2 separate regions of the Homo sapiens genome follow, and region 2 is linked to region 1. A link means that fine-mapping ties the variant in region 1 to the expression of a gene that starts in the linked region. Tissue or cell type: hypothalamus. Region 1 holds a variant in brackets; the other region holds the start of a gene. All regions are shown on one strand. Distances are from middle to middle.

Region 1 (2,768 bases):
CTCCGCAGATACCAACTGCTTAAGAAAATCCTCCACCTGCCTGAAAAGGCATCAACAGGAAAAGAAAAGCTAAAAATTAGTTTTTTAGATAAGAATTTGAGTTGTTGCCTGAAAATTACCTGCAGTAGTTCATTCTATTAAAAAGGACTCTCAAATTCATTGTCCCAAGCATTGCTTACCACCATTCAAGTATAGGCAATTGCTTTGTGCAGCCAAAAGAAGATAATTTTGCAAGATCTCACCATTCAGTTTTAAGAGTCTCCTGTGAGCTGTGTATGGCCTTATATTTGGTCATTTATAGGAAATAATCCAAGAGTTTCAGAAAGACTTTTCTGTCTCAAAATCTGTCTTTTATTGATCTGCCTCAAAGATCCACACCACTTGGGCTTCGAAGCTTTGAGCTATAGTACAAATATGCTACCTGGCCAAGGTGGATTAAGCTATTATTATTTTCCTCAATTTCAGTTCCCTGATGAGCCGCGATGATAAGTGGGACACAGGATGTGTATATGCATAGAGGCAAGTCCTTCTGCAAGAATGGCCATAATCAAAAAATGAAAAAACAATAAATGTTGGCTTGGAGGCGGTGAACAGGGAACACTTCTACACTGCTTGTGGGAAGGTAAACTAGTACAACCACTATGGAAAACAGTGTGGAGATTCCTTAAAGAACTAAAAGTAGAACTACCATTTGGTCCAGCAATCCCACTACTAGGTATCTACCCACAGGAAAAGAAGTCATTATACGAAAAAGATACTTGCACACACGTTTATAGCAGCACAATTTGCAATTGCAAAATCATGGAACCAACCCAAATGCCCATCAATCAGTGAGTGGATGAAGAAACTGTGGTGTGTGTGTGTATGTGTGTGTGTGTGTGTGTGTGTGTGTGTGTGTGTATCATATATATATGATATATATATCAACCATATATATCACCCATATATATAGTATATATATGATATATATCGATCATATATATGATGGAATATATATATGATATATATATATATATGTGATGGATATATCTATCCATGGATATATCCATGGATAGATATATCCATCACATATATATATATATGATGAAATACTACTCAGCTATAAAAAGGAATGAATTAACAGCATTTGCAGTGACCTGGATGACACTGGAGACTATTAGTCTAAGTGAAGTAACTCAGGAATTGGAAACCAAACGTCGTATGTTCTCACTGATATGTGGGAGCTAAGCTATGAGGACACGAAGGCATAAGAATGATACAATGGACTTTGGGGACTTGGGGTGAAGAGTGGAAGGGGGACAAGGGATAAGACTACAAATATGGTGCAGCGTATACTGCTTGGGTGATGGGTGCACCAAAATCTCACAAATCACCACTAAAGAACTTATGTAACCAAACTGTACCACAATAACTTATGGAAGAAAATAAAAAATTTCCTTTGAATTAAAAAGT[T/C]CTCCTGGAGGAGGCATACAACTTACATGTGTATATGTAATTTGTAATATATGTGTATATATACTTCTATATAATGGAAATACCTGTTATGTATAAACACATAACACATATGAATACAATGTTACATAGTGAGATCCTTTTATACAAGCTATTCTCAAACCCGCTTTGTGAACTCAATATTATAGATATCTTTCCTTTGTAGTTTGTGTGTGTGTGTATGTACATGTCATTTTTTGCCATTGATTAGTATTGCACCTCAGGAATTAATGATAATTTCTTTACTCAATCCTCTTTTAAACTATACCTGTCATTCTTAGCTATATCATCACTATTTTTAATTACATCAAAACATTCTTCTGCACAGAGATATTTCTCTGCACATATTGCTGTCTCTTTAGTAAGCTCCTTGAAGAGTCATTGCTAGGTCAGGTATGGGAGGGAAGAACCATAGAGGACTAGAATATTGATACTGCATGATCCCTTCTGGGGGCTCAGATACGCCTGTGAGGCTGGGCTCCTAAAGTGAGTGAGTGTGTGTGTGTGTGTGTGTGTGTGTGTGTGTGTGTGTGTGTATGGAGGAAGAAAATGGGAACAAAGTGCAATAAATGTAAACTTTGCTGATGCCACATTTTTACACCGAGTTGTTACAGAACAATAAGAAAACTGCTGTTATTGCAGACAACCGTTAGATTTGTTTTAGTGTTTACTTCAGCAACGTCTCTCTGTGCCTTGTCTAAACTGTAAACACCCTGTGGGCAGGAGCCAGTTCTGGTGGTTGTTGCTGTTACTGACCAATATATACCAAGTGTTTAATATATTTACATTACTGCGTTTCAACATTTTTTGGTGAAAGAGTGAATAAATTATATAGAAAATATTTCCTGAAAGGAAGAGATTTGCAAGAAACTTCCTAAAGAGTGGCATTTCTAGGGAATCTATTATCTTCCCAATCTCCTTACTCAACCCCCAGTATCTCTTTTGTATATAATACTTTCTATCCCACAGCAATTGAAATGTAGAACCATACAATTTTAGGCATTACTCTACTGTTTTAAGGCAAAAAATAATTCTGCCTCAGAAAGTATTGTATAAGGAGCAGGTTGTAGTAAATGGACCATCCTTGTCAGTCAAGAGTTTATCTTTAATGTAAACCACTCAACCCTGGCCTCAAGGTCAACCTATTTTTATGGCCAGCATTTGATTTATTTTTATATTTTACTTCCATTTTTAAACAAGATAGGTTGCTGTGCAATTATGAAAATTAAAGTAGGAATAAACTTGGACATGTGACTTTATACTGAATTCTATAGATTGCA
Region 2 (2,500 bases), 910 kb before region 1:
TTAATCTTTTGCTTTCATGGATTTACATGCAGTTTTTAACTTTCTGCTTTTCCTCAGTTATGACAAAGAAAATCAAGATAAAGCACTGCAAATAGGACACATGAAAGTCATAGGAAACCAGCCATAATTCTCACTGAGACAAAATTTTTTTTGATTCATCACACAATTTGTGATATAATGACAGTGATTTTGCATGATACATATGTCTGGATGAGACAGGAACCTATTTTCTTTGTGGATTGAAAAAGTGCACCAGTGTAAATATTTACTCAAAATACACAAGCAATGAAAGGTGGAGGATGAATGTACGTGAAGTACAAAATGTGACATATACCAAAAACAGTTCTTGCTGGGACGGACTCCTTATTAATCCAGAAAGACACCTGGGAAAGAATGACTGTCATAATGCAAGGAGTGTATATCTGTATCATGAAGTAGCCCATCTTCCTTTGCAAGTGGAAGTAAACTGTCATTATAACGTATTCACCTGTTGGAAGACACATACATCAGTATTATTACTGCTGACAGTCTGCAAAAAGAATGCAGTTGAATATAAATCTTGACAACTTTTAAATTAACATTGACTGGAAGAAAACAAGCAAAGGTACATTTCAGTATATGAGAAAGCTACTTGATCAGCAGATGATAGAGCGAAGAGACACATCAACTTATTGTTTTCAGTAGGGTTCTTTATATCATATACATAAAAAAAACTACTTATTCCAAGATTACACAAATCTTTATATGCACCTGGTTGCAAAATCAGTTTTAAGGAAAGCTACTCATCACTGCAAAACAGCATGCTTAGCTGAGAATGGCTAAGGCGAAGGAAAAAGAAATAGATATTTTGAAAATGTGCACTGGAGTCATCCTGAGGGATTATTTCCATCCTTTGGTCAAATTCTTACCTGTGTTAGATTTAATTGTCTCACTAGATACTGTTTGTCCAATCAGATCATACTGGAGAAGGCTTGAAGATTCTTCTGGGACTTCTACTGAGTAAAGTGGTCCTTTTTTCCACGTATATATGATTTCACTTTTGGGATAAGCATCTAAATATTTGAAACAAATTAAATATAGCAGTGAATTTGACGAGTTGTCTTTTTTTCCTTCAAAGTGCACATTGTCTATAAAAAAGGAAATACAAACATAGATTGTATTTAATGTTTTCTTTAATCTTGGTGACTAAAGCCTCAATTTATGAGATTGACAGAATGATTAAGTATATTCCTAGAATCACACTGATAGTGTCATGATTCTATTTCTTCCTTGATTTCCAGTATCAACTAAAACCAAGTAATTATATATTTTGGATGTATTATTTGACTCTCAGAAGCCTGTTGTAACTTACAGCTCCCAAACTTGAGTGGACAAGCATGCCCATCCATAGGAAAGTTAACCAGCCTCATGGGACAGTCAGCATTGATGGTAAGCCTAGAAACATTGAAATCAACGGTTCTGAGTTAGTATTATGGACATATCATTTAGGCAGGGGAAATAGAATTGGAGAAACCTCACCTCATGGTGTATAAAATGGTTCCATTCTGCATTATTCTGAAGAGTTTATTAGGAGTTGTCATGTTGTGAGCAATGGACTTTTTACCATTTCTGAAAAAGGTGTCAGGCGTCCAGATTTTACTGACCATCAAATTATTCAGACTCAGAATCTCAGTTGGCCCCCCAAACTTCAACCTCTCATCAGTCCAGGTCTGGCGGAAAAAAACATCCATCGTATACTCCTAAGAGAAAATAAAATATTTGTGTGGGCTGGAAAGATAGTTTGCTAAGAATAGTTTATTCACTAGCCTATACACCCAATCTCAAAACTTAAGCAATAAAGCAACTTTTTATCGCAATAATTTCTCACAAAGCTATAATTTTAGCTAGTTATTATTGTTCTCAAACTCAGAAAGTTTGCATTGTTATAAAAGATAGTGCTGTGATATGTAAACTTCCCTCCTCCACCTTGACTTTCCTTAATATTCTTCCTCTTTATCTATCCAGTCATCCATATTTCCATCTATCAATATGTCCTTCTTAATCTAGAAAAAAAATATGGAAATATTTAGTTTAGCCTTTGTGCTGGCTGGCCTTTATACCATCGGTTAGACTAACTATTCCCCTTTGCACCTCATTCACCCTCAAAGGTATTTCAGAGCTTCAGAGTACCATTCAGTAAAATTCCACACATAGATAAACCTTACTTGATAAACACACTATAGCTGCACATCAAAATTATTTTATATTGTTCTCAGGGAACATATAAACAAGTGTTACCGTGACTATTCTAAAGAGGGTATCATTTAAGTATGTATCATCAAAATTATGACTTAATCTGTGGCTTTTATGAAATAGCATTAAAATGTTTAAGAATTATAATAAGAGCTATTGCAAAAGTCAATAACAAATAACAACTTGTAATTATATCAAAGTATTGCCAATAATTGCTTTGCCTACTATATAAATTCCTTTATGAAACGTATTATGGCAAGCAGTGATT

Which allele goes with the higher level. Alleles are on the strand shown, and positions count from the first base shown. SD is a standard deviation of normalised expression in the study named.
In carriers of allele T in region 1, the expression in hypothalamus of the gene that starts at base 1,278 in region 2 tends to be lower than with C alone (small effect, 0.32 SD a copy in GTEx).

Evidence for each region. PIP is the estimated chance that this variant, and not a neighbour inherited with it, causes the effect.
Region 2: GABRA6-AS1 starts here. The variant in region 1 is fine-mapped to the expression of GABRA6-AS1 in hypothalamus (GTEx, PIP 0.93).

Annotation. Positions count from the first base shown.
Region 1 is chr5:160,781,695-160,784,462 of GRCh38, reverse strand. All of the region lies in intron 2 of ATP10B (ATPase phospholipid transporting 10B (putative)), which reads left to right. Among named protein-coding and RNA genes, the nearest start is that of ATP10B, 69 kb to the left of the region's middle. The variant T/C (reference allele first, on the strand shown) is at 1,453.
Region 2 is chr5:161,688,188-161,690,687 of GRCh38, reverse strand. It overlaps GABRA6-AS1 (GABRA6 antisense RNA 1), which reads left to right and starts at 1,278. Exons shown (of 2, transcript NR_189170.1): 1 at 1,278-1,428. It overlaps GABRA6 (gamma-aminobutyric acid type A receptor subunit alpha6), which reads right to left. Exons shown (of 9, transcript NM_000811.3): 4 at 1,519-1,739; 5 at 1,352-1,434; 6 at 909-1,052; 7 at 335-487.